Linked DNA regions of Homo sapiens. The protein of the gene in region 2 binds, or shares a complex with, the protein of the main gene of each other region. Each region holds a gene or a part of one and is shown on either strand. Other genes may lie near its edges.

Region 1 (15,280 bases), on a different chromosome or scaffold from region 2:
TTTACTTGGTGAAGCCAACCATGTGCATAGCAAATGAACAGACTAAATTAGTTCCTATTTTAAACCTGTTACTAGTTATTAAGTGGCAAAACAGAATCAGATCTTCAGTATCATAGAAATGATAAGCCAGGCATGGTGGCTCACACCTGTAATCCCAACACTCTGGGAGGCCAAGGCAGGAAGGTCGCTTGAGGCCAGGAGTTCAAGACCAGCCTGGGCAACATAAAGAAACCCGTCTTTACAAAATATTTTAAAAATTAGCTAAGCATGGTGGTGCATGCCTGTAGTCCTAGCTAATCCTCCTACCCTTGAGTGAAGCAGGAGGATCACTTGAACCCAAGAGGTCAAGGCTGCAGAGTGCCACTGTACACCAGCCTGAGTGACAGAGTGAGACCCCCGTCTCTTAAAAAAAGAAAGAAATAATAAGAAAAAATATGAATCCAACATAGGACAATTAAAGTATAGAGTCTATATATATTAACAAAAGTAGGTTTTTTTGTTTTGTTTTGTTTTGTTTTGTTTTTTTGAGACAGAGTCTTACTCTGTCACCCAGGCTGCAGTGCAGTGGTGCGAACTCGGCTCACTGCAACTTCCGCCTCCTGGGTTCAAATGATTCTCCTGCCTCAGCCTCCTGAACAGCTGGGATTACAGGTGCCCGCCACTACGCCCAGCTAATTTTTTGTATTTTTAGTAGAGATGGGGTTTCACCATGTTGGCCAGGCTGGTCTCAAACTCCTGACCTCAGGTGATTCGTCTGTCTCGGCCTCCCAAAGTGCTGGGATTACAGGCGTGAGCAACCGCGCCCGGACACAAAAGTAGGTTTAATTCTACAGAATTAAATTGTGAAGGCCAATTTAAAAAATTAAAACAATAGGAACAGGAAATGTTCTTATTAAAGAAAAATTCCTGAAATGTAATACTAAATCAACTGTGTACTGTATAATATCAAAACCAAACTATACCAAAAGTCCTCAGACAATTAAACTCAATAGGTCATGCGTGTTTAACCATTTGACAGGACATTAGAGAATGGTGTTTGATTAACTAAAATTGAGAGAACTATAGTGAGTAAGAATATTTTCCGTTTTCTTTCAGTAAACAGAAGAGCTGGGGAGGTCTGGGGTTTTTTTTTTTAATCTAAATCAAAAACAAATTGTAAATACCTCCAAAAAAATTAATTTGTTCAGGGAAATAATTAAAAGACTGCTTCAAAACTGTATTCTTTGCTGATTCCAGGCTAGAAAACTGATGAGCAGATGGCACCAATGTAAGTGAATCATTAATGATCTATAAAACCAAATACTATCACTAATGTAAAGAGGCAAGCTTAGATCAACAGTTATGAAAATCTCTATAAGCACATGTAGTTAGAGGATTCAGAGCTTTCTGAATGAAAGATGAAAAAAAGCAATTATAATCTACCTTTGATGACCACTGGTAGAATTATTTAAGCTATCAATACTTGCAACTAAGATGTTATTAAAAGGTAGGCAAGAATCCTGAAACGTTTCTAAAGCCAAGTTCTCATTGAAAGAATAAGCAAGTTTTCAAATACAGTCATGTGCTGCATAACAATGTTTTGGTCAACAACAGACTGTATAAATGTATGCTAGTGATCCTGTAAGATTATAATGGAGCTGAAACACTCCTAGCCCCAGTGACATCATAGCCATTGCATTACCCTTTTATATGTTTAGAGATGCTGAGATACACAAATACTTACCATTATGTTACAATTGCCTACAGTATTTAGTACAATAACATGCTGTACAGGTTCATAGCCTAGGAGCAACAGGCTATACCATATAGCTTAGGTGTGTAGTAGGCTATACCATCTAATTCTGTGTACGCATACTCTACAATGTTCACACAATGACAAATCACCTAATGATGCATTTTTCAGAAAGTATCCCTGTCCTTATGCACAGCCTGACTATATCATTTAATTTCTTCTTGTAACAATTTAAGCTAGAATCATGACGTGAAAAGTAGGAAAACAGTAATATTGGAGAAAAAACTTTAATGCTTAAACGTGCCCTCATCCAGTACAGAGAGAAATACAGATAACAAGTGCTCACCAGGCCCCGCAAAAGTACATTAAAAAAAAATACATTCCGGACCAGGCACGGTGGCTCACGCCTGTAATCCCAGCACTTTGGGAGGCAGAGGTGGGTGGATCACGAGGTCAGGAGATCGAGACCATCCTGGCTAACACGTTGAAACCCCGTCTCTACTAAAAATACAAATTAGCCGGGCATGGTGGCGGGCGCCTGTAGTCCCAGTTACTTGGGAGGCTGAGGCAGGAGAATGGTGTGAACCTGGGAGGTGGAGCTTGCAGTGAGCGGAGATGGAGCCACTGCACTCCAGTCTGGGCGACAGAGCGAGACTCCGTCTCAAAACAAAAAAAATACATTCTGAATCTAGGTTTCATAAATAAGTATATGTAAAAGAGGTAAAATAGGATAACATGTAATAGCTTAATATAAGTATTCATTACAAATTCTCTAAAACTATATTAACACTCAAGATAATATCCTTGACAAAAAGATACTTCAACTTCATTCCATGACTCAACCTTCTCTTTCTATACAAAGTCTACTACTGTGATCTGGCAAAAGGGTTACTAGTGAAGTCCATAGTGCGGCCCAGACACAGAGAGCTGGCTGCATAAAAAGGAATACCACTATTCTAATTTCCCTCTCTAGCTGGCTATCAGTGCCAAGCCCTTACACAGAGGGAACTTATGAGTTGGAACAGATTCAGAACCCAGCCACAACAGATGTCTCTCCTCCTTCACTTGCTTATAATAAAATGCCATGGAACTAATTTTGTGGTGCCAAGTCTCCCATTTACATTCCAAGAGGGAACTTTTTTCTCCAAATCATACAAATGACCAAGGGCTCTATAATCCTAAACTTAGACAATTTTTATAAAGTATCCTATAAACGTCTAAGAGTGTCTATTACTTAAACATTTCCTTAAGTGGGGACTAAAATTTCTGTAGTGTCACCAAGTTATTCTCTGTTATAGTTTCACAGAGAAAAATTACTTACTATGAAGCAGAATCATTGAGCTGATATTCCCTGGATCTGCTGAAGCAAGCTTGTACCCCACCATCTCGCCATAACCGTTTAATCACTCCTGCTAGTTCTGGAGTCATGACTCCTTCTTCAGCACTGCCAGCTAAAACAAATAATTGCCGGGCATCATCCTGAAGAAAGCAGTTAAGAAAGAGACAGATGACTCTCCATTTCTTTAAGACTTGATGACAGTCTCTTTAAAATATAGACACATTACATGTTATGTTAAAAGAGGTGTTGTTACAGAGACCTTTTCTGACAGGCCAGCATGACAGAATTTATAATTAAGTCTTTCCTTATTCTCATTTCACTACAGTTTTAAGTCCAGAACTGAGCTGAGGAATGATTTTACTTCCCCACCACTCCTCCACACACCACCATCCCCAGAAAAGATCATTTCTGGCCAGCCCACAAATCTCCATCCAGATTGCTAATAATTTTTGAGAGAAAAAAACTGGTTTATGAGACAGGATTATGTAAAACATTCCCGTTCTATTAAAGGAAGCCTACACTAAAAATAGAAATAAAAAGACTAGCACATAAGAGGTAAAGTCTAAACACCTCAAAGGGAGTAAAACATTAATCAAGTTTAAGAAAAAAGTATTCTCTTCTTTGCCTTCAGCCCAGACAGTAGAACAAGAAGAGGAGATGGAGGCACTTAAGGTCTAGAAGCCTAATGGGGGAAATAAATCCCTCAGGGAAAGATTCAAACAGTCCCTAGATTTCCCTAAAGGAATAAGGAATAATAATAATGTTCTGAGAGAGGGAAAGGAAGGGAGCAGGAGGAAAAGAAAGTAACCATAACTTCATGAGTCATAGCCATGGTTTTCTTTATTTCTTTTCTTTTTTTTTTTTTTTTTTTTTGAGACGGAGTTTCGCTCTTGTCACTCAGGCTGGAGTGCAATGATGTGATCTCGGCTCCTTGTAACCTCCGCCTCCTGGGTTCTAGCGATTCTCCTGCCTCAGCCTCCCAAGTAGCTGGGATTACAGGCATCTGCCACCATGCCCAGCTAATTTTTCTATTTTTAGTAGAGAGGGGTTTCGCCATGTTGGCCAGGCTGGTCTCGAACACCTGACCTCAGGTGATCCACTCGCCTCAGCCTCCCAAAGTGCTGGGATTACAGGCGTGAGCCACTGGGCCCAGACATAGCCATAGTTTTCTAGGTGGTTATAGTTTTTAAACATAAAATATGTGAGGGAGAGGACAGAAATGGATTATGAGATTTTTATTGTTTTCCTTTATTCTATCCATCCCTACTTGTTGGTTTAAAATTAAACACAGGTCTCACGGGATGATTTTCCCATCCACATCTAATATTTATCTACCTTGAGAGATTCCAAATAACTATAAAAATAAAAAATTTAAAAAGTATATAACGTGTAAAGAAAAAGTAAAGGAGAAAGGGGAGCAATCATTTGTATCTTAAGTAGTCATCAAGACAAATAAACTAACAAGCAAAAGTCATTTCAGACCACAGGTGAACTCACAACCTAAAACTCCAAAGACTTGTGAATTACCAGAACTTGTGCATCCACCTTAGCAAAACAAAACCATCCATGGTGCACTCAAATTATTTTTGCCAAACTCTGGGTCTCCAGCTCTAATGGTTTTTACCTAGTAATATTTCCTCCTTTATGATCCTTTCCTGTATTCTTTCTAGTAATATTTAGGCTCAACCCACTCTCATTTAGCTTCTGAGATCAGGCGCATTCAGGGTGGCATGGCGGTAGACTAGGCTCAACTCTAAGACACCTTAGCTGGTCGGGCATGGTGGCTCACACTTGTAATCCCAGCATTTTGGGAGGCCGAGGCGGGTGGATCACAAGGTCAAGAGATTGAGACCATCCTGGCCAACATGGTGAAACCCCATCTCCACTAAAAATACAAAAATTAGCTGGGCATGGTGGCGTGTGCCTGTAGTCCCAGCTACTCGGGAGTTTGAGGCAGGAGAATTGCTTGAACCCAGGAGGCGGAGGTTGCAGTGAGCTGAGATGGTGCCATTGCACTCTAGCCTGGGCGACAGAGCAAAACTCCATCTCAAAAAAAAAAAAAAAACAAAAAAAACACCTTAGCTAAGATCTATATGCCCCTCCCTTTCTTTTCAAAGATAAAATTTTAAACAAATGAATGAGAAAAGTTGAAATATTAGACAAATTGGCAAACATACTCAGCAGTGAGCATGTCCTTGTACATATGCAAGGTATGGTGCTTTATCTAACATGTGAAGTCTTCATAATCCCCTGGTTCTGAAATTTGACCTATACCCATGCACGTATTCAAATAACCTTATTAAGCACTACTTTAAAAAAAAAAAAAAACAGAAAAAAACCATGACTCTAATTTTAGAAACTTCAAAAGAGAGGGAATTATTACTACTTTTTTTGCTGTCCTGACTCTTTAAATATTCTTTTAGGAGCAAACACTTTTTTCTTATCACTTAATTTCTTCCACTGACCTGCTCTTGCTTCCCCACAATAAACCCTCTCTAAAGGTCTATAAAGAGGTGCCTCTTGGCTGGGCATGGTGGCTCACGCCTGTAATCCCAATACTTTGGGCAGCCAAGGCAGATGGATCACCTGAAGTCAGGAGTTCCAGACCAACCTGACCAACATGGAGAAACCCCCGTCTCTACTAAAAATACAAAAAAATTAGGCGGGCATGGTGGTGCATGCCTATAATCCCAGCTACTCGGGAGGCTGAGGCAGGAGAATCGCTTGAACCCAGGAGGCAGAGGTTGCGGTGAGCCAAGGTCACACCATTGCACTCCAGCCTGGGCAACAAGAGTGAAACTCTGTCTCAAAAAAAACAAAAAACAACAACAAAAAAAAAAACAGAAGAGGCCCCTCTTTACAATAAACTTCACACCTCCACACTTAAGCAGATGTGAAAAAGGAACCTATTCCACACTCAGCTCTATTTTTTTTCCATTCACACTCTCTAACCAACTATAAAAAACTAGAGTAGAAGCCGGGCACAGTGGCTCACACCTGTAATCCCAGCACTTGGGGAGGCCAAGGCAAGTGGATCACCTGAGGTCAGGAATTCAAGACCAACCTGGCCAACATGACGAAACCCCATCTCTACTAAAAATACAAAAATTAGTCAGCCGTGGTGGCAGGCGCCTGTAATCCCAGCTCCTTGGGAGGCTGAGGTAGGAGAATCACTTGAATCCAGGAGGCAGAGGTTGCAGTGAGCCAAAATCGTACCGTTACACTCCAGCCTGGGTGACAAGAGCAAAACTCCGCCTCAAAAAACAAACAAACAAAAATACTAGAAGACAATAAGAGAGGAGCTATAAACATAAAACCTTACACACAGAAGGAAAAATAAAAAGCAATGTTTAAAAATTATAATATAGGATTACAGACTAGGTTGTGTGGACACCAGAAAGCTGGATGATTTAGGAGGCCTGAGAGGGACTAATGATGTCAACTGCATCTGGTGACACAAGAGTATTAGGATACAAAGATTAATGACAATTGATTTGATAATGGAAAGAAATGGGGCCGGGAGCGGTGGCTCACGCCTATAATCCCAGCACTTTGGGAGGCCGAGGCGGGCGGATCACAAGGTCAGGAGTTCGAGACCAGCCTGGCCAACATGGTGAAACTCCATCTCTACTAAAAATACAAAAATTAGCTGGGCGTGGAGGTGAGCGCCTGTAATCTCAGATACTCAGGAGGCTGAGACAGGAGAATCGCTTGAACCTGGGAGGCAGAGGCTGCAGCCAGCCATTGCATTCCAGCCTGGGCGACAGGGCGAGAGTCCGTCTCCAAAAAAAAAAAAAAAAAAAAAAAAAGAAATGAAAGGGTAGGGAGATAAATAAAGGAAGACAGACGGCGGGGAATAAAATTAAAGAGGGAAAGAGAAAAGGGACAAACTAAAAGAATAAATAACTGAGACAGAGAAAAAACCAACAGAGAGAAGGAAGAGAATAAATACAGTACTACTGACCAGTTACCAGATACAACAAATACAACAGAGAAGTAGAGTTAGGTGATAGGGAGAAATGAGAAAAGGGAGGAAGAAAAAATAAGACCACAGATAGAGCTGGTATAAAGAAGAAAAAGAGGAAAAGAAGGAAACAAAAGCAGGGGGTGAGAGAAGGAATAGGAAAGGGTAAGACAAGGATAAAGGCTTTATTTTTGCTTGACTGCCAAACTTCCCTGCTCAGATGCATAGAAAAATAGTCTCTGTGATATATTTCACAAAAATATAAAAGTCACATTCACATATTTTCTTATTTTTTGATACAAGTCTCTCATTTCACAATCCCTAATCCAGCTCCTCTTCCTTTATGCCATTTCTAAGACACTTTCTAGTCTAACACTATCCAACTGTGACTACCCTTTCAGTATTTCCCCTCAACAATTTCCTATCTTTTTATCAAATATAAATTCGCATTTGATAAGTTGGGAGTGGCTTATGAGAGTTCCTAAGCAACTTCATAGACATATAGGTTTTGCCTTTCCAGGCAGACCTCCCAAATCATTTCCTTTTATTTCGCCATGGCACATAAGTATGACACTCTGAACACAGCCAGTGAGTCCCTTAGATGTAGGAAATAATTCTATAATTTCCCAGCCTTCTCTGGATTTTAGCTGATAATAATATCAAAGATCTCCTGCCTTCATATTGGCACCCTCCCCAATGGCATAAAACATCCTAATTACACATGCTCTAATTTTATAAACTAGATCTTCAGGGTCCACTAAGTATTATTATAATAATACAACTTTTTAAATAGCTGACATGTGCAAGGCATTAAAGAATTATACTAGGGCATGTTATACTCCAATTCTATAGCCTTAGGTTCCATGTAGTATACAGTATTCTTGAATATCTGACTTAGATATTCAAGAATTTGGACTTAGTGCTCATGTCCTTACAGAATTTATTCTGGGAGACTGATTTTGGCCTTTAATCTGTACACCTCAGAAAGCAGAGCTACATATCATGGCAACCTTTCTCTTAGATTATTTTAATGTACTATTATCTACTACTATAAAAGTCAACAGTGCTGTTAAAAAAAAAAAAAAAGCAATTGAATAGAACAGTTATCCCAGAAACCTACCGTGCACCCACAGAATCCCATTTCCTAGGCTCCTCTTGGGGTGGTTATATCTAACACCTGCTAAAGTAGATTGCTAACATTTCTCAAGTGAGCACAAAGTACTTTGCTACATTTTATCTTGTTGCTTAAATTCATTTCCCTAAAACATGAAGCAAAAATTTTGCTTAACTTAACTGTATCTGCTGAATAAGAGCAAGTGAAGAGGAAATGAGAAACACTTACTGCCCTGGCAGCTTCCCCAAAGTCAATCTTTAGCCGTCCCATGGCTCTTATGATTGCAATGATGGACTGTATAGTATTGCTGTAGACAACTACTTTATATTGTTTACATTCATCCTCTGAATAGCCATCCTCATGAATGATTCTTTAAAACAAAGAAAACCACAAGTCAATACCATGGACCTAAAATGAAAAGATACTATGGACTTTATATGCATTAGGAGAAATCCTAGTCTAACAAAACGCTACATTCCAACTTACTTCATCTGTTTCACAATGGTGCTTTTACCAGATTCTCCAGCACCTGTAAGAAAAGAAAACCAGACTTTGAATTTCTCGGTAATCAACATAAAAGTATAATATCAACATGAATGATAACTCTAGATTGATGAAAACCACGGGTCCTAGGGAAAATTTTGGTGAGGCTTTCATGTCTATCAAGAAAATGTATGGAGCTTCTCCACTACAGCATTTTGCTTTCTTTACATAACTCAGCAACCAAGTATAATTTATTGAAAGTGTCCTAGGGCTTGCTTGGTATCATTTGTGTAAAATAGGCATATCCAAGGACAGATGGCAACATAAACTTTTGGAGGAACTCATTCACTACATAAAACATGATATAAACACTGAACATGGGCAAAAATGAAATCATTATTTTTTGGTCTATTCATTTTTATTAATTCCTCTGTTGCTGCCTGCCTATACCACAGAAATGTTCTGAGAGCAATACTACCAGTCACAGGACTAAAGATGTTTCAAATAGAAGCAGAAAAGGCATTGTTCCTATCAATTTCTCACCATATGTCATCTCAAGACCACCCTGCCCTCCTTAGCCAGCTGGAATCACTTTAAACAAATGACCACAAATGTCAAGCTAGCCTTCTGACCTCCTTGACAAATCCACCTGCTAGATCTTCCCTAGTCAACTCATTTTCCTATCTTCCAAGATGCCTATATCACACCACCTCCTCTCTCTCAAATTTTATAAACCCCCTCCCAATTCTGACTCTCAACTGATGATCCTACCCTACTTTTCCATAAAAATTAAAGCAATCAGAAAAAACTACATTTTCCCACAACGACATCTACCAGTCTATCTGTACCTCCATTAATATTCTCTACCTTCATCAATGGATGAAAAGTCTCTGCCAATGTTTTAAAATCAACTTCTCCCCTTATGCACCTTCATTTTACCTACTCAAGGTCATGGCTGCTGCAATTTCCCATGATATTTTCCACATCTCAAATATGATCAGTTTTTTCTTTCCACTGGGTCATTCTCATCAGCATGCAAACTTACTATACTATTTTCCATCTTTAAATCAACACACATACACACCCCTAACTTTCCTTGACCCCACACATTTTCTTCTAGCTACCACACCATTTTCTCTATCCCTCTTTGCAGCAAAACTCCTCTAATGTGCCATCTATACTCAGTGCCTCCAATTTCGTACATCCAATTCTGTCCTTCAGCTATGCTAATCAGGCTTTCATCCCCACCACTCTAATAAAACTACTTCTCAAGGTCTCCAAAAACTTCCATCTTGACAAACCCAGTTGGTCAATTCTTGGTGCTCATCTTAGCCTCTCAAGCAGAATTTGTCTAAGTTGAAATATTTTCTTCACTAGGCAGGCTTCTAGCCAACATACCCTTCAGGTTTGATTCCTACTTCACTCCTCAATCTCCTCTCTCCAGTTTCTGAATTATTATTATTATTATTATTTGAGATGGAGTCCCGCTCTGTAGCCCAGGCTGGAGTGCAATGGTACAATCTCGGCTCACCGCAACCTCCGCCTCCCAGGTTCAAGCAATTCTCCTGCCTCAGCCTCCTGAGTAGCTGAGATTACAGGCGCCTGCCACAACACCCAGCTGATTTTTGTATTTTTAGTAGAGACAGGGTTTTTCACCATATTAGCCAGGCTGGTCACAAACTCCTGACCTCAGGTGATCTGCCCGCCTCAGCCTCCTAAAGTGCTAGTATTACAGGCGAAAGCCACCGCACCCAACCCAGTTTCTGAATTCTAAAGGTTATATTGCTTCAGGGGTCCCTCCTTGGCCCTTTTCCCTATCTAAACTCATTCTCTAAGTTATCTAATCTCATGGTCTTTATTTTTTGGAGACAGACTCTTGCTCTGTCACCCAGGCTGGAGTGCAGTGGCGCAATCTTGGCTCACTGCAACATCTGCCTCCCAGGTTCAAGTGATTCTCCTGCCTCAGCCTCCTGAGTAGCTGGGACTACAGGCACACGCCACCACACCTGGCTAATTTTTGTATTTTTAGTAGAGACGGGGTTTCACCATGTTTGCCAGGCTGCTCTCGAACTCCTGGGCTCAAGCGATCCACCTGCCTCGGCCTCCCAAAATGCTGGGATTACAGAAGTGAGCAATCGCACCCGGCCCTAATCTCATGGCTTAAACACTATTCAAAAACTGATCCTAACAGTTAACATCTAGTGAGTACCCTCGGCCACACTGTTCTAATCACTTTGTTTGTAATAACTAATTTAATCCTCACAATAACCCTATGAGGTAGACATTATTACCCCCATTTTACAGATGAGATAAATGATGCAGACAGATGTCAAGTAACTTGCCTATAATTACACAGTTAGTAAGTGGCAGAACTGAAATTTGCATTCACAGTTTGGCTCCAAAGCTGGTGTATACTGTCTCTATACTAATGATTTCCAAATTTAGATCTCTAATCTTGGCTTCTAACCTTGGCTCCAGATTCATATATCTAAACCATCTACCTGATATTAGATTTCTAGTAGGTATTTAGATTTCACAAACCTAAAATGCTCAAAACTGAGATACTGATTCCCCAACTCACTCTCACCTCAAAACAAACCCTGCTCCTCCCTCAGTCTTCTCATTCCAGTAAATGGCACCAACATTCACCAGTTGCTCAAGCCAAAAATGTTAAATGACATGTGACTAACGTGCAGATAAGACAAGGATGCCAGTGCCAATCTGTATATTAAATATTAGTAAAGCTTAATTTTTTTAAATAAAGCAATATAAATAGTTAATATAATAGTTTTAACAGTTTGTTCCTGAACATTGGAAACCATAGGCCTAGATCACTGCAAAAGCTTCCTAAATAGTTCAGTGCTTCAGACCTTGCCTTTTCTAAAGCCAGTTTGCCAGTCAGTAGGTGGAATAAACTTTGTAAAATGTAAATTAGATCTTGTCACACGATCTTCAATTATACTCAAAATCCATGGGCATTATGGTGCAATATGCTCTGGCCCCTGCCTACCTCTTCACCCTCATCTCTTGTTACTCTCCACTTTGTCCTCACAGCTCTTGTCAGACCAGCATTCTTGCTTTTCCTCCAACATACCAAACCGGTTCTTACTGAGTTAGGTCCTGACTCTGTCTTTCCTGTCTTTGCGTTTACTGTTACCTGAAATAAGTTTTGCAAGATTTTCTTCCTCACAGGAACAGCCTTTTCTGACTAATCTATCTAAATAGCTCCCACCCCGTCACAGTCTCTCCCCTTATTCTGTGTTATATTTTTTCATAGCACTTACCACTTCTTCACATGACAGATTAGCTCATTTCTTATCTTCCCCACTAAAATATAAGCTCCATGAAGGCTTATTCATCCCTGCATTCCCAGGGCCTTAAACTGGTCATGACATAAATTATCTACTCAAATAAATATTACTAAACAATGAATAATATTTAGTAACCATGATTCTTTACTAAATATTTCTCAACTTTACTAACCAAAAGTTAATTAAAATCCAAATATAAAAATTCTAGACAACTACATTCTTACAGAATCAAAAGGTACATTTATATATGATCTTGTCTTATTACATAATCGATAATCAGGGGTAGTACTAAATAGTTAATACTCAAATAGCACATAGTGACTTTCTTAGGATGCTGTTATAAAAAGGTGAATCCTCTCATTCATATCTAAAAAATCCAATGATTCTACTCTGGGAAGAAAATACAAATGCATACCAGTTATATTTTAAATTGCTTAAAAGACAGAATTCCCAGATTATCCATAGTAACAAGAGCTACTAAATTAAGAAAAGTTGAGATTAATGAATTAATGTGTACCATTCTTTTATATATTGAAAACCACATTTCCATCATTCATGTGAGATTATCTTGAATGAAATAATAAATCCATTAATCTCAGAATCAATTTCTACCTATCTCATTAATCCTACCCTATGGATGCGCTGATTAAAAAAAAAAACAAAAAACCCTCTGTTGCCCTACCTCTCTCACATTTTTCCAAGGCTCCCTGAGAAAATGTCAGTTTGCCTTTCCCTTTATTATCACACTAATATCTTCTCCTGAGCTTCCAGTTCCATCTCAGGGGCACTATTTTTAAAACCATCAGTTTATCTAATAATTCTCCAAATTATTGAAACACTTTCTATAACCCTTTCTTATTAGGTCTGGGCTCTTCACTTTTACCTCAACTCTCTGTGCTCCATTGTTCTAGCAGTAAGCTCCCTTTTCATAACATCTCATTGTTGCGTTTTCCCCAAGCTGCTTCCTATGTTCCATCTCCCTACTCCACAACACATGTGGTGTTCAGAACTTCCTAATTTTATCTGCATCTTTTATCTATCTTTTTTCAAAAATGTATCACAAGTTTAAGGAGAGATTCAGTTGCCCATCTTCAATACACCAGGGAAGTAATAGTTGAAATACAAAGAATGGGAAGATGCAAAGGATACTGCAAAGACAGCAGCTATGGCTTCAAAAGGGAGGAACTGAAGAGGACTCTGTATGCAGAAGGGATGGAACTATGCAGGGGGTTAGGATACACAGGGGAGAAAAAGTTGGAAAGGTCCCAGAAACAGGAGGCAATAGGATCCGTTCAACACAGAAGCTTTATCCTTTAAAGGATATCCTATATAAGTAGGAGAAAAGGATGAGAGGTGAAGTCACGGAGATTTTTGAGAATAAAAGGAGGAAGGAAGCCATGTTAGTTTCATTCTCAATAAAAGAGGCAAGGCAATCTGCAGAGAATAAAGGGAGAGGATTAATTTAGAAAACTATCTGGGGACAGGGAATGGTTGGTTCACACCTATAATCCCATCACTCTGGGAGGCCAAGGCAGGAGGATCACTTGAGGCCATGAGTTCAAGACCAGCCTAGGCAACATAGGCAAACCTCATCTCTACCAAAAAAAAACAAACAACAAGAATAACACAAAAAATTAGCTGGGCCTGGTAGCACACACCTGTAATCCCAGCTACTTGGGAAAATCTCTTGAGCCCAGGAGTTCAAGGTTGCAGTGAGTTACAACTGTGCTACTGCACTCAAACCTGGGCACAGAGCAAGACCTTGTTCTGGCAAAAAGAAAAAGAAAATCATCTGTGTTTATCTACAGTTTGGATACATAATCATCAACACTGTTAGACCAAAAAAAAAATTCAACAATATGTACTCTAATGTAGAATCACTGTATTTACCTAAACATGGGGTTTTGTTTGTTTGTTTTTTGTTTTGAGACAGAGTCTTGCTCTGTCACCCAGGCTGGAGCGTAGTGGCGTAATCACAGCTCACTGTAGTCTCAATCTCCCAGGCTCAAGCAATCCTCCTCCCTCAGCCTCCTGAGTAGCTGGGAGTAGCTGGGACTACAGGGGCACACCACCATGCCTGGCTAATTTTTTTTTATTTTTAGTAGAGATGAAGTCTCACTATGTTGCCCAGGCTGGGCTCAAACTCCTGAGATCAAGCAATCCTCCCGCCTCACCTCCCAAAGTGCTGGTATTACAGGGGCGAGCCACTGCACCCAGACACATGTTCTTAATTGTATTTTTAAAAAGATCTCTGAGCAGGTACCAGAGCATATGCTCTCCACCCCTCAATAACATATATTACATTATGGGTATGCAAAGTGAGAGATGGTGATAATTTCTTTGCAAGATAATTTTTAAACAAGGCCCCAAGTGATTGGAATTTGGAACTGCTAAAACAAATAAACCATTATCACATATGAGCAAACTCATTCAGCTCACATACAGACTGATTTTAAAAATTAACCCTGACAGATGGCTAATTCTCAAAAAAAAAAAAAAACACTATCCCCTGAGTCCTTCTCTTTTTTCTCTTTCATTTGACTAAAGCCAGTCCAAAGAAAGTACATGAGTATACTATGTGAATTTCTATTTCTGTGCCTTCAAGCACAATGAATTTCCTCATCTGAATGGGGGTCAATAAAAAATGCTTAAAACAGTGCCTGGCACATAGTAAATGTTCCATAAATGTTAGCTAGCTATTATTTATGAATGCCATTTCCAATGTTGAGAATATCACCAAGTAACGTTAAGGCCTCGCAAAGTTTTATTTAGTAATAACAACTTGGATACTGATGTTGGTTCAAAATTCCAGTAAAAATGGTGTAACTATTTAGCAGTGGTTTCATAATAATAAAATCCTAGATAGAATCTGAATTCACACACTTAAACTGCAACTTATAACCTAAAAGTTACAGCAAACTATAATATATCAGAGCATTAGTCGTTTTCTTCACCCTATCCTGAAGAACAAAAATATTCTCTTCCTTAAATGTATTTTCAGCCCCAGATATTCCTGTCTACTATCGCCTCTCCTTTTCAACCATTTATACCTCTATAGCTTTTCCTTGAACCTTCCTCACAGGTCTCTCTGCACCACTACCACCTGAGATAGCAGTTATTCCAGGGGTACCTGAAACATCTCCTCTTCCTTTTAAATACTGGTTTCTATATAGAAATCTTAAAATTTTTAATAACAGGATTATAATTAGAGTATAGTCCCTCTTCCAGAGGTCTGGACAGCCAAGTCCCAGTATGGCACTATTTTTAGATAACCTTTTAGTCAGTGCTAGACCAAGACTCTCTCTTCTACGGGCCCCCATTATCAGACATATAGGAA
Region 2 (15,519 bases):
ACACTTTGAGAAGAATGAAGATGAAAATTCAATCTACCAAACTTATGTGATACAGTGAAAGCAATATTCCAACTGATATTTATATTATACATGCATACATTAAAAAGAACACCTAAATTAATAACCTAACTTACATTTAAGGAACTAGTAATAGAACAAATTAAACCCACAGCTAGCTGTAGGTAGAAAGTAGTAATTATGAGACAAGAGATAAATAAAACAGATATTAGAAAAACATTACAGAATATTAACAAAAGTAAAAGTTAATTCTTTGAAAAGATTAACAATATTAAGAACATTTAGCTAGACTGACAGAAAAAGAAGGAAAGATTCAAATTATAAAATCAGAAATGAAAGTGGGGACATTACTGCCAATATTAAAGAAATAAAAATAATCATAAGAGAAAACAATGAACAATTATACAACAAGAAATTAGATAACCTTGATGAAATGGAAAAATTACTAAAAACACACAAACTATTAAAATTGACACAAGAAGAAATAGAAATTCTGAAAATATCTATAACAAGTAAGGTGATTGAATGACTGATCAGTCCACCCCTTGCCCCCTTAAGAAGCCCAGAACCAAATAACTTCATTGGTGAATTCTATCAGATATTTAAAGAATAATTAACAGCAATTCTTGTCTAAATCTTCTAAAAAAATTTTAATAGGAGAGGATACTTCCTAACTCCTCCTACAAGGCCACCATTACTCTGATACCAAAGCCAGACCAAGATAGCACAAGAAACAAAACTACAGACCAATATTACTTATTTATACAGGTACAAAAATCCCCAAAAAAATACTAGTAAACCAAATCTAGTCACACATTAAAAAGATTATACACCATGACTAAGTGGGATTAATCCCAGGAATGTATGGTTGATTAAACATCTTTAAAAATCTATTAATATCAATGTGATATACAAATTAATAGAATGAAGGAAAAAACCATATGAACATCTCAATGAGGAAAAAAAAGATCTGACAAAACTCAACACCCTTTTATGATTAAACCACTCAACAAAGTATGAACCGAAAGCAACTCCTTCAACCTGATAAAGGATGTTTATTAAAAACCCACAGTTAACATCATAGTCAGTAGTGAAAAATTTAAATCTTTTCCCCTAAGATCAGGAACAAGACAAGGTTATCCACATTTTTCCTCCTATTTAACATGGTACTGGAAGTTCTATCAAGAGCAATTAGACAAGAAATAATAAATGGCATCTAAATTAGGAAGAAGTAAAACTACCTCTATTCACAGATCTTATATATAAGATCTTATATATATATATGGTCTTATATATAAGAAATCCTAAAGAATCCATAAAACAACTATTAGAACTAATGAAAAAATTTGGCAAAGTTGCAGAGTACACGATCATTTGTTTCTGTAAACTAGTAATGGAAAATCAAAAAATGAATTTCAGAAAACAATTTAGTAATCAATAGTATCAAAAAGAATAAGATATTTGGGAATAAATTTAATCAAGAAGGTGCAAGACTTCCACACTGAAAACTACAAAACACTGCTGAAAGTAATTAAGGAAGAACTAAATAAATGGAAAGACATCATTGTGTCATGGATTAGAATACAACATTGTTGAGATGGAAATATTTCCCAAAACTATCAACAGATTCAATGTACTCACTATTGAAAGCCTAAAGGATTTTTTTGAAGAAATGGAAATGCTGATCTGCATTTGGATTTAAGGAACCCTGAACAGCCAAAACAATCTTAACAGTCTTGAAAAAGAAGACCAATGTTGGAGGACTCACACTTCCCATTTTCAAAACTTAATTCAAAGATAATAGTAATAAAAACGGTGTGGTATGGCATAAAGGTGGATCTATAGAACAGTAGAATAGAATTGAAGGTTCAAAAATAAGCCCATATGTCTATGGCCAATTGATTTTTTACAAGGTGCCAGTATCATTCGATCAGGAAAGAATGGTCTCTTCAACAAGTGATACTGGGACAACTAGATATTCACACACCAAAGAATGAAGTTAGACCCCATCTCACACCATAAACAAAAATTAACTCGAAGTGGTTTAAAGACCTAAATATAAGAGCTAAAACCATAAAACTTAAAAGAAAACACAAGAGTAAATCTTTATGACCTTAGATTGTGCTATGGTTTCTTAAATATAACACTGAAAGCATAAGTAACAAAAGAAAAACAGATTCCAGGGGGGAGGGATAGCATTAGGAGATATACCTAATGCTAAATTACGAGTTAATGGGTGCAGCACCGCAGCATGGCACATGTATACATATGTAACTAACCTGCACATTGTGCACATGTACCTTAAAACTTAAAGTATAATAATAATAAAAAAAGAAAAATAAAAAAAAGAAAAACAGATAAATTGGGCTTCAATAAGCTTTAATACTTTTGTACATCAGAGGACACTATCATAAAAATAAAAAGACAACCTAGAGAATGAGATAAAATATTTGCAATATTTAGATATATTGGATAAGGGACTAGTTTATGGAACATTTAAAGAACATTTATAACTCAACAACAAAAGGACAGTCAACCCAGTTTCAAAAGTGGGCAAAGGACTTGAACAGACATTTCTCCAAAAAAGATATATGATAGGTGCATAAGCATGTGAAAAGATGTTCATCATCACTTTTGTCACTGAGGAAATGCAAACCAAATCCGCAATGAGATACCACTTCACACATGCTAGGATGGCTGTAATCAACAAAATGGAAAATAACCAGTGTTGGTGAGGATGTGGAGAAACTGGAACCCTTGTACATTATTGATAGAAATGTAAAATGGTACAACCACTATGGAAAACAATTTGGTGGTTCCTCAAATAGTTAAATATAGAATTACCACATAATCCAGCAATTCCTCTCTTAGGTAGGTCTCCAAAAGATTTGAGAACATGTATTAAAACGAATACTTGTACACTAATGTTTGTAGCAGCATTATTCATAATAGAAAAGGTGGAAACAAGCGAAATGTCCAACATCTGATGAATGAACTAAGTGAAATATATTATATCTATACAATGGAACATCAGTAGGTTGCAAAAAGAAATTAAGTACTGATTATATGCTACAACACAGATGGACCTTCAAAACATTATATTAAGTAAAAAAGAAGCCAGACCCAAAAGGGTAGACATTGTATGACTCCATTTTTTTATGAGATATCCAGAATAGCTGAATCCATAGAAACACAAAGCAAATTAGTTGTCAACAGCTGGAGGGGGGCGGAAATGGGGGAGTGATTGATTCAGGGATACAGGATCTTCTTTTGGTATGATGAAAATGTTTTGGAGCCAGGCGCGGTGTCTCATGCCTATAATCCCAGTTCTTAGGGAGGCAGAGGTGGGAGGATAGCTTGAGCCCAGGAGTTTGAGACGTGCCTGGACAATATAGCGAGGCCCTGTTCTCCACAAAAAGGAAAAAAAAGGCAAAAAAAAAAAAGAAAATGTTTTGGAACTAGATAGAGGTGAAGGTTGCACAACATTGTGAATATACTGAATGTCACTAAATTGTATAGTTTAAGATGATTAATTTTATGTTATGAGTCACTTCAATACAAAAAGGCAGAAAGGGAGAAGAAAGGAAATTAGCAGTTAGTGAGCTACTGCTATATATTAGGCTCTGTGCTAGGCTTATGCATTATCCAATTAAATCCACTAAACGACACTGTGAGTCATTGTCCCCAGCTTACAGATAAGCAAACCAAAGTCCATGTAACCTAATTTCCATAGCTAAGAAACATGAATCTGGAATTCAAACCCAGGTCTGACTCCAAAGCCTACACCCTTTACCACCACCTACTCTGTAGGAACCTCCCATAGCTCGCCTCTCATTACTCTGTCCATAAGGACTTGTGTCTTTGATCAAGAATAAAGCATGGCTCACCAACTACTCCTTCACAATGACAAACTTTCCGGAGAGAAATGCTGAAATTTCTTGGCCCTACTCCCAGCCTCCATAGATTTTATAAAACATGATCTGCAGTTGGGGTGATTTTTAGGAGCTTCAGGAAGTCCTCATCCCAAGGACATACATGTTCCCTCATGCTTGAACTCTTTTCATTAAAGAGATAGAGCCCTTTTCCCCACAATTGGAAAAAAAAAAAAAAAAAAGCTGAAGACCAATCTACTCCTGGGAGAGGGAACACATTAGTATAGTGATTAGGACAGATTATATCATTCCATGAGGGATAGTTTTTAATAAGCTGGGGAGGGGGCAGGCAAAGTAAAGACTAAACCTACTCTTCCTGAGGTCCCACAGAGTCAGTCACAGACCAGCAAGACACAATTGGAGCCTTCTCTGTCACTATCCTCTAACCTCAGGCAAGGTGCTTCTCAATGGTCCAATATTCTGCAATGTCCTATGATTCTGCAATTACACTTTACAAATTTGCTCAGAGCTGGCCCCATTTGCATTGCTATTAATGGTGAGGACAGCAAAGTCCTTAGCTAATCCATGAAGTGAAGCTCTGTTTACACATCTTTTATTAAGATTAATCATTAATTAATGTAAGGCTTTATCCCTTGATTACAGGGATCCCATTCTGATATAACAGTTTAAATGTTCTCTTGAAAAATGAAACATATTTTTCAATTACAGTCATTCGTCGTCCCAATTCAGGCAAAACTTTTATTTAAATAAATAATTAGTCTTGGCAATAGCATCATAATGTATGAATGTGTAAAGTTTGAATGTGCTAATTGTTGGTTCCTGCATTAGTCTTTATAAGTGACATGTTGCTATATATATACGTGGTATTGGGCTAAGAATTATCCAAAGCAAGTAACACTGATGCAGTCCTGCCTGGCTCACCGGAAACTTATTTTCTAAGGCAGGAGCTTACTCAACTGATTTGAACAGATATTCCATGCTTTCTCCTGCATTTTCCTTTGCTGAATTCCTGATCAAGATCCTACAACTTGCATTAGTGTTGTTTGACTTCCTGAGGTAGAGATAGTGCTGAGTGTTAAAACCCATAATCACACTGAGATATTTTTTCAACACTCCACAGTATTTTAAGAATCACCTCTTTTTACATTCCATTTCTTTTGCTTTTGCCATTGTTGAGTATTTCTCTAGCATGCAAGTAGTTAGAAACTTTCCTTGAAAACAAAAACCTGCTTTCAAATTGCTCAATTTGTTACAGCCTTTGTGATGTTGTAGTCATTTTTATGCTGGATACAGTGTTATGACACAAATGCCACACGCTGAGAAGTCACAAAAAATTGTTGTAGGACTATGCTAATTAGCAAAACAAAATGCAATCTCTATAAGGCAGAACCTCAAACAATAAGCCACTGTTTGGGGACAAATAGGAAATAGAAGAGGGAAAAAGCCAGGTTGGATTCAATCCAGAAATTGGTTATCTATGAAAATCAGTAACCCTTTCCCCTTGGGGAAAGAAAGGTCAATAGTTTCTTAGCATACTGAAGGCTGGGATTATGTCTTACAGATCTTTGCTATAATCAATACCCTACTCATAGTGTGTGCTTGACAAGAATTTGATGGTAACCAGAAGATGGCATTGTTGATAACAATGAATTCCACCATTTGTCAAAACTTAGCTAATTTGTGAGGGTTCCTTTTTATGTCGTTTCCTCACAAAATATTCATTATTTTCTGAGACTCTGTTCAATGCAAAGTCTGGACATGCCATGTGGGTAGAATTAAGGTTAAAATATGGTCTTTGAAATGTGACATTACCTTAAATGGCACTCATTCTATATGGTGAGGGGATAATTTTGCTCCCCAGTGGACATTTGGCCATGCCTGGACGCATTTTTGGTTGTCACAAATGGGGTGTGGGTTCCTACTGGAATCTAACAGACAGAGGCCAAGGATGCTGCTAAACATTCTACAATGCACAGGGCAGCCCCCCAACAAAAGGAATCATCTGGCCTAAAATATCAATAGCATCGAGGTTGAGAAACCCTGCTTAATGACTGGGAAAACCCCACTCTCTGGATTCCTCATAACAGTTTCTCTTCACCTACGATGTTACATTAAACTCTGGTCTACATATACCATTTACCACTATGGTCAAGGCTGTAAGAAGAGAGGAGAAAAGAGTATGTCTCAATTACATTTTAACAGTCATACCTGTCATGGTATTTGAATAGGCCAGGCCATGTAAGTAAACCTAGTCTAGAAGCTAGGTAGTTCTGGGCTTAAATTAGTCAGATAGTGGCTTCCATTTTTGGCTTTGAGCCACTTTTGCAGATGTAGCCTCTAGGTGCAAACTACCCTGGGAGACATACACACTCAGCCACCAAGTGGAAAACCAGAATATGTCCCTATTGACAGAGAAGATGAGCCACCCAGCCCCAAGGCTGACAAGCAACCTAGACAAAGCTTGGGTCCCTGCCTAAGTCAGCTTTCTAATTGCACTAGGAGATACTCTGCTAAGTTTGTTTTGGAATTCGTATAGTAATGCCTGGCATTTGTATGGTGCTTTTAACTTTTGAAAGGATTTTTCTTTATATATCCTTGATCTGAAGAGGTTAGAAGGATAGGGCAGAAACAGGATAGGGCAGGAGCAGAGAAAGAAATTTTAACCTTATCCACAGTCCACTGGGAAAGCTCCAAATTTCAGAAGCACACACAGTCCTCATATGTTAAAGACAAGTGCATTGGATATAGGGCCTTTGAAGGAAACAGCTCACAAGAATAAGGCTTTTGCTCTCCCTGAGCACTGCTTCTGGTTGCATCTGGGCTTGGAGTGGAAGTCTCAGCTGGACTGCAGTTTGGCTAAAAAAAGGGAAATGCCCCCAAAGTTTTATCCACGGTCACATATTCTACTCACCCTCATGCCAAAGGGAAGACGGCTTAATCACAACATAGACCTCCCTTGTTTGGGAGACTGTATATTAGTTTGCTGGTTCACAGTAAAACTGCCTTTGAATGAAAGGCAAAGAATCAAGTGATTTTTTTTTTTCAGCGACCCTCTTGGCCAATCTTTAGAAACACTTCCTGAAGTATTTAAGTTGTTAAGAGGTGGAAGCTCCACCCTCACTTCTTCCTCCCCAACTCCCTTCCCCCCAGACACAAACTCTTCATCCCCCAGGGTAATAATTTTCTTTTCTCCAATACCTTGCTCCCATACAAAAGCTAAATACTCTCCAGAATATTGGACTGCCTCGGGACTAGGAGGACTAACGACAAGGGGAAAATTTGTCTTGCTTGGTGCCCCGAGCGACTTTTCCAAGGTAGGCTAGGAGGAGAGTGCTTAGGGCTTCCACTAAACATAGCTACTACCAGCTTCACAGGCTCCGCAATGAAAACACTCGGCCATTTAGGCAAGGGAGATGATTCTGGCATTTTCGGGAGCTTACACTTAGGCTCCCAGGGCGTGCAGAGGGGGTTAAAGAGCAACAGGAAGTACAGTGGAGTTTTCTCAGAGCTAGGGATTGTTCTGAGAATGGGTAGGGAAAGGTTTTCAGGTACCAGCCCGGCGTCCAGAAAGGCAGAGACTCACATGCCCCTTTCCTGAGAGCGCTAGGAAGGGAGATAAAAGACAAAGCCAATATTTGGGGCTGTGCGGCCAGGCCATGAAATGCTGCCAGCTAGTGGACCTATGCGCCTGCAGGTTGCAGGTAGAAGTCTCAGGCTTGTGGTGGGGGTGGGGCTATTTAGCCCCTTCCAGTTGGGCTCAAGAGGGTGGACATTCTGAGCGCCAGGCTATAAGGTGAAAGAAGTGGAGAGGTGCTTCATGTGAAAGGAAGGCGTAAAGATCAAAGAGTGGCCCAAGTGTCCGGTGACACCGCCCCTCTCCCTCCACAACAGATACCACTAAGCAACCTAGCCCCCCGCCCCCATCCTACAATATCACTTTCCCTCCCTGTATCAATCTAGGCTGGATCTTGGGAGATCGACCCTATGGGTGAGAGGGGCACGGATGGGAGAATTAGGTAGCTCCAACTAGATTAATCTAGATCTATCAGGGATCCAAGCCTGCCCCATAGGACCCCAGGTCAGTCCCTGGCGACTCAGCGCTCCGCTGTCTCCCTGTCCTACCAGCCGCCCGCCGCCCTTACTCCCCCAGGTTCAACTCCCCTTCCTCCTGAATGACCTATGGTCGCCGGAGCAGCCTCGCCACCACCGGCCCAGAGCCCAGGCTGACGGGGGTGGGCAAAGGTCACTGCCCAAAGCAGGGGATATTCAGGCCAAGGGGCAAAGAGAGACTCTGCTAGCCATATGCTCCGAGGGACTCCTGTCCCCTCTACCCGCACCCGCGCTTAGCCTCCCACCTCCCCTCCCGTCTCTGCCACCACCCAGGGGAGGGGGAGGTCTGGGGAAGCAAACAAACGAGACAGAAAATTCCGTACCGAGGGGGGAGAGATGAGACGGTGGGACGGGGCAGCGGGGGTTGACTTGGGGCTGCGGCTGCGGCTTCCTTCCACCCCTGGCCGCGGAGCTGCAAAGAAGGCAGGAGCTGCTGCCCCTGCCGCCTGCCCCGTCCTCCCTCTTTCCCTCTCGCCTCCCCGCCTCCCCCGCCCCGCCCCGCCGCCAGGAGATTGAGAGTGGCTTCGGCCCGGGGGCTGGGGGAGGTGAGGGGTGCTTTTGCCTACCACGGTTGTCTCAATCTCTCTCTCTCTCTCTCTCTCTCTTTCTCTCTCTCTCTCTCTCTCTCTCTCTCTCTCTCTCACACACACACACACACACACACACCCCACATCACAACCACGACGGGTTGTCCGCAGCTCGCAGCCACCCCAAAGGGAGGAATAAAGAACAGGAGCAGAGGGAAGCCGGGCGCAGAAAGAAGGGAAAAGGAAGAGCTCAGGGTTGGACATTTTTGGAGACAGGGGTGGGGAGGATAAAGGGAGCGTGCCTCCTTGATTTTCCCCTCCCCACCCCTCTTTGCTTTTCTCTCCCCTTCTCTGTATAGCATATTCCAGAAACGGCAGCAGAAGGGGACAGAAACCTCTAGTGTAGAAAAGGGTTTTGGAGGGGTAGCCAGCGCTCCCGCCAGCCGCTACCTAACAGCTGGAGCTTGAGTGTGCGTGTAAGAGTGTGAATGCGGCTCTCTCTCTTTTTTTCTCTCTCTCTCCCCTCTCTCTCCATCCCTTCCTTCCTCCCTCCTTCTCCCTCTCCTTCACACTACAGTGTCAGCTACCCCTGTCAGTTTCCCCGTGTCAGTTTCTTCCCTAGCTCTTATTGTGTGTGACTGGCTGCGTGAAGGGAGTGGGTGCGCTTGAAGGGGCTCAGGTTGGGTTAGAGAGCTGGGAGAACAGGGTAGGGACATTGGTAGAGCAAAGAGTTTCAGGGCACTGGCGAAGGTGAAAGGTGAGGAGGGCCGATCTGTTACAGGCAAGTTTGGCAATAACTGAGCATCCAAAGGGGAAGCCAAGGTAGGAGCCAGTACTTGCGCTCGTCTTTACACCCCGCCCCTTTCCCTGTGCTCATCCGCCCACCCACCCATCAGCCTAGAGGCCCCGGGCTGTCCCAGTCGGCTGCTGTTTCGCGCCGCAAAAGAGGAGTCCGGCAAGGCGCCGCACCACGCATCCTGGCCGGTGGACATCCAGACGACACAGATTTTATCCGAAAAAACCACTTGGCTCAGGGTAAGTCTACAGGCGGCCGGTGCGGTCCATTTCACTGCCTGAGTGCTGCTGAGGGGCAAGGGGCAGCGAAGTGCGGGTTGAATGAAGATGCTGGGCTGCTGTAGGCGGAGAAGCATTGACTGGCTGGCTGTGGGCTCAGGGTGGTAGGGAGCAGAGGGAGGCCAGCAACAGATTGTTTTGGAAGAGGAAATGCAATGGGGAGAAGCTCCAGGGTTGATAGGACAAGGTGCTGCCTGCGATGACCAAAAACATCCTTTCACTGGGAATATTTTCCTGAACCACAGCTTTGTCCTATCCCTGGACAATGATTTGCTCCATTCTTGGGTAGATTTTAAGATCCGTGGGGAACCTGCTCCCAGGCCTCCTTAAAATCGATTAGTGTGGCCCTCGGACCAAGGATACCTGCCCTTCGTCAAAAGCCACCTTCAGAAATAGAGAGCCAGGAGCCGGATCATGAAGGTTCAGGAACCAGGGTCCCCATTTACCTTCTTTGTCTTGTATCCTTCAAACTTAAGAAATGGCCAGATTTGTTTGCCTGTCTTCCTTAAAGGAACCAAGAAATGCAAATGGAGGGGCATCAGTCAGATCTCTGCTTCAAAGTGGACACCTCCCTCCCTCCCTAGACACACATCGACTCGGACAAATGGTCATGATCATGTCCCACATATGCAGGTACTGAGCTGAATTCACAGATGCTGATCTTTCTCCATGGTCTCTTAGAATGAGACTAGAAGGGCTTTTTCCCTATTACAACCTGGGCTCTTTGGATCGCAGTCATGTACCTGGTGATGGTTAAGTGTTTAGCAAGGTTATTACTCCCTCAGGAAAAGCCTGAAGCGGGGAAACCAGCCTGAAAGATAGAACCTCTGAACTTTACCCGAGTTTATTATAAGAGTAGGAGAGACATAGACTAATTGATAATGCTCTTTTTAGAGATTGTGCATGTTAACCCTTGGCTTCAAATGTGAAATGATTACAACATTGACATGGCACACCCAGACCCACTTTTCTATTGCCATATATTTATCTTCATGGCATTTAACAAGAATGACAGATTTATATATCAGCATTCATAATTGTCTATTGTTGGTGTCATAGGTTTTTTGATGTTTTATTGATGATTTATATTATGTCTCCTTTCCCATAAACTCTTTAAAAACTGAGATATAAATGATGTCACATGGTACCTTTCATCATGTCTTTAAAATCTGCTTATTCTAAATCAAAAGGCATGTTAATATATTTACATAGTACGAAGTTCGTTTCAAAGCAAATATATAGTCTGGGATAAAAGAAACCCACAGGGTCAAGGAGTCTCTGAAGCTCTCTCTGTGAGGTCGAAGGAAGAATTGAATGTCACCTAAAATCCACATTTTGGTCCCTGGAAGATGCTGTTTTCATAAACTTTCACAATATACATAGGGAGAGAGAGAAAATCTGTGTGTGTGTGTGTGTGTGTGTGTGTGTGTGTGTGTGTGTGTGTATGTAGTTTTTCAAGGACCTCAATCAACCCCATACAATCTTGGCTCTGCTTTTGTAACAGAGGGGAGCAGGAGGTGAATTTGTGCTTCCAAAGCACCCAGGTTCGTCTGTTAAACTTTCTATTTATTACTATGTTACCAAAATGCAATGAATTGCCTCTTTCCAACTCAGCAAATAAGAGAAACGGATTCTGCATTAAGTGAAACTGTTTATGTTGCATCAGGCAATTCTTTCTAATGTTCACTGCTGAGAGAGAGCAGAATGAGGATTACTCAAGTAGGATCTGAAAAGGTGCCCATTCTGTTACTTTTTAAAGCAACCATAGTAAGTATTTTCTTAGGTTAAAATTACACTTTCAAATAGATATACTAAAGACCGGGTTGCAGACAGGTAGGAAAGAACTGGCAGCATCATAATTGGGGAAAAACTCAAAATATCAGCACGAATGAAGCCTACAGTGTAGGTTTTGCTCTGTTCTTGGTGATGTGAGTATCTGGCTGTTGAGGTAAGTCCTGATGGTTACCCAGGGGATAAGCATGTGAGCAGGTTCAGGGATTCAGAACCAATGTAGCCCCCGGCTTCACTGATACTAATTCACCTGGCTTCAGTGTACATCTCAACATGGAGACCTGAACCAGATATCTGCCATCCTTCCCAGCCACAAGAGCTATAATCCTAAGATTCTGTTCTTTCTATAGCTAACAACTAAAACCGGAATGGCACGCAGAACCACAGTACTTAGAGAAGACTAGGCCAGGAAATTAGAGATGCAGAAGGGAGGAAGATGAGAGGAATATGAGAGAACCGAAGATGTTTTGAAACAAACAGAAAGAAAACTATCCAGGTGTTTGCTTTGACTGGGAATGGAATTAATCCAGAAATCAACTCATATGTGAAGCATCTTAAAATTGCCTGTATTTGACTTGCAAACACTGTGTAAACAATGATAGAATTCCATAGTACCAGGGAATTGGGAACCTTGGAGTACATTCTCAGTGTTGCTGTCTCATTTCTCTCCTTACAATATTAAATTCCAATCTGCAAGCCATTCAGGTGCTTAGTTATTGAATGGATATTTCAAATGTGTCATGATGCTTTCCTGTAGCCTGTTTTCGAATATTCTAATTTATTTTTTGCCATGGCTCCATCACTGAAGGTGGTAGATTGAAGCATTTCTGCCTGCTTTACTTCTGCCAAAGGTTCCTGTTTTCACCTTAGTATACTAAGCTGTTCAGATGCCTCCTGCTAACTGATGAAGAATATAAGGCGCAGAATCTCTCTCCCCAAAGTACTCTGTGCCACAAGGTGCCACTGGCCTAATCTGGCCCAGTCATTTGCCAGGTTTGCAGGGAAAGGTATGACAAAGTTTGCAGCCTATAGACAGAAATAAAGCCTCATTCTAGGCAGAAGTTATTCCTCATCCCACAGATGAGGGATAAGCTAAGGCCAGCCATCATGTCCAGAGCCTAGTAGCTGACATATCCACAGTGTCATCCTTTCTAAAACTCACGAAGCTTTTCTTCTGTTGATGGGCCCCTCAAACTTTGTCCAGTGAGACCAGCAGAGCCATACTGCCAGCAAGGAATGATTCCTGAATGACTCAACTGTGGTCTTATAAACAAACATGTACATCATGCTCAACTGAGTGAGCACAGATGATTTAAAGAAATTATAAAAGCTGATAGGGGCTAAGAAAAATTGCAATTTGCTGGGTGAAGGGAACTTTGCAAGTTTCTTAGGTTTGGTTTTCTGTCACCAATTCTGGAGTTGGCCCTTGGATGGTGGTGGCCAATGCAATTGCCCCAGGTTTTTGCCTTAGCAAAAGGAAAGAAAAAATAACGATAAGAAACAAGCGGGGATCTTGGAGGGGTCAATCCTCTCATTTCACCTATAGAGAAATTGAAGTCTAGAGAGTAGAAATGACCTGCCTAAAACAGACTACTAGCTAACAACAGTGGCAAAACCACAACCCAGTACTGTTTGCTGATACGAAATACATTTTCTGAAGTTCTGTGGAGATCTTCCCAAGAAATCGAGAGGTAACTAAAGTCAAGTTTACCAAGATCACAGCCCTCTACTTCCATTCCATATGTATGTATACGTGTTTATATTATATGCTGCTGTCATATCTTTGTGACTTACCTTCTTGACCACCACCTCCCCCTAACACACACACACTCACACACACAATCCTATCTTGCTAGCTAAGAAAACATTATATGTGTCTATAGCTAGCGTATTCAGATGGAAGGCAGAATTAAACATGACAAAAATTTAGCTGCTCACATTTATGTGTCTGATCTGGCTCACACCACCAACAGCAAGGCATCTAGAAATCCCAGTCTGTTCTGCACCATAGTAGTTTTGGGGAATGGAAGCTAGCAGAATCCAGTGACTATGGCTCTGGTTTAGTATACTCAGTCTCAGAATCAGCCCCCCAAATGCATGTGCAAATACACACACATGCACACACACACAAACATGCACATACAGTCACACTCTTTCCGAAAAATTAAAACAAAGAAAATAGAAAAGATAAGGCAGGTGGTTTTTAGAGCAGAGTACAAGAAGAAGGAAAGGTTTGCAGACGGATATTCTTACCTTCCCCCATTCTTTAGCCTTATTGCCTAATTTTCATTAATCCCACCCTAATTTATTTTAGGATCTGAGAAAATAGAGCAATGCAAACATGTTTACTACAGCCCAGAAGGATGATCTGAAAAACCTCCACATTTGAGTGAGAATATCACAAGGATAGGGAAAAGGCTAGGATGTAGTGAGCTAGAGCCTTGCTACTCCAAGTGTAGTCCCCACACCAGGATTGCCACCATCCCCTGGGAGCTATCTATAAATGTAGAATCTCAAATCCTTCCCCAGACCGACTGAATAAGAATCTGCATTTTATGAAGATCCCCAGTGATTCATTTTTATACTAAAATTTGAGAAGCACCGGGCTAGAGCTTATCCAAAAAGCATCTGAAAGATATTTGAAAATAAACAATTACCTACTGAGCATGTAGGGACAATTCATGTGGCTTATCAATTAAAAAATAAAATATAAACTTTTTCCAGGTCCACTTATCTTATTATTCACTGTAAAACCCTTCAGTGTGGGCAAGAGAGTTCATGTAAAGGGAGTGAGATCATAGGATTTGTTTATTTACCAGGACGACTTGGGTGTGGGAACTCACACAGACCTGAGTTCAAATCCTGGCCCTGCTCACGAATTACTAGCTGTGTAAACATGCACTTTGCCTCTAAGCCTCACAGTCCCCATCTATAAAATGGGATTAATAATAGTACCAACTGGCACTGGGCTGTCATGAAAAATTAAATAAGACCGTATAATGCACTGGGATATGGTGAACAATCAATAAATAGAAGATATAATTCATACGATTTGGCTAATAATTTTAGTTTGGTAGAAAACCAACCACTAGATGTGATATATTGGGGCACCTAGCATTATTTCTAATTGACGTGAATCTTACTGGGTTTTCTACAGATAGAATGCTAAGATATACAACAGTAAAATATATTTAAATATGATGGAGGCCACTAGAAACAAATATTTTTTCAGAAGGAATTACAGGTGTCCCTAGTGAAATCACTCCATGGAAGAAGACTGAAGTCAGAAGTGGCCCTGTTCTATGAAGCATATCTCAAAATATTACCAAGTTAGAAAGTCAAAAGTGAGGCATTTTCTGCATGTTTGCATATATATGCAGCATGAAAACACACACATACATACACACACACGGACGCATCATTTGATGGACAAATTATAAAATAATTCAAGGCCAAAATGACATTCTAGGAGCAGAACTAGGTTTCTGCCTGATAAAATCTTTAAAATGCACAAATAATAACCTCTACTTCGTAACTTGCTCATGTTGCACAGTTTAATGGCTTAGGTATATACTATAGCTATTACTATTTTGTAGGTGAAAAAAAAAGAGCAACTCCTACCTCTTCCCAGCCCATGGTGCTACCTACCTGCTCAATTTTCTCACCAGTAAAATATGATACACGTAGTACTCATAAAGTCCAAGAAATCACCAGGCACTTGATTCTATAAAGACTTATTGACTGGCATGTGCAATCTGGGCAACCTGATTGTAAAGACACAGAGACAGACACTACCACCTCTGGATCCCAGTCCTTTGGTATGTTCCAGACCTCCAGCTTCCCCTGATTTTCAATAGTATCAGATTAGTAAGGTATCAATAATCTTATAATAGACAATATTTATATCTAATTGCTAAGATTTCTGTGATCACCCTAAATAAACAATAGCACGTGTTATCAATTATTGACTATCTTTATATTAGTTTTCTATTGCTGCCATAACAAATTCTCACAACCTTATCAATTTAAAACAACACAAATTTATTATCGTTATAGTTCTGTAGTTCTGAAGTCTGACACAGGGATCACTGTGCTAAAATCAAGGT

What was found.
Region 1: the proteins of TRPC5 (region 2) and GNAI3 are in contact, whole or in part, in a cryo-EM structure (PDB 8GVX), measured with the Homo sapiens proteins. Residues at the interface, in NP_036603.1 of Homo sapiens: Thr27, Glu32, Glu33, Glu56, Ile57, Tyr58, Tyr59, Asn60, Lys125, Pro128, Thr129, Leu130, Met131; in NP_006487.1 of Homo sapiens: Arg205, Arg208, Lys209, Trp211, Ile212, His213, Phe215, Glu216, Glu245, Leu249, Ser252, Asn256, Lys257, Trp258, Arg312.

What each region holds. Positions count from the first base shown.
Region 1 is NC_000001.11:109,567,135-109,582,414, reverse strand, and holds part of GNAI3 (guanine nucleotide-binding protein G(i) subunit alpha-3), read right to left. Parts: intron 8,679-15,280; coding exon 8,636-8,678; intron 8,520-8,635; coding exon 8,378-8,519; intron 3,212-8,377; coding exon 3,054-3,211; intron 1-3,053. UniProt on the Homo sapiens protein: Heterotrimeric guanine nucleotide-binding proteins (G proteins) function as transducers downstream of G protein-coupled receptors (GPCRs) in numerous signaling cascades.
Region 2 is NC_000023.11:112,075,943-112,091,461, reverse strand, and holds the start of TRPC5 (short transient receptor potential channel 5), read left to right. Parts: upstream 1-8,685; 5' UTR 8,686-9,583; intron 9,584-15,519. UniProt on the Homo sapiens protein: Forms a receptor-activated non-selective calcium permeant cation channel. Mediates calcium-dependent phosphatidylserine externalization and apoptosis in neurons via its association with PLSCR1.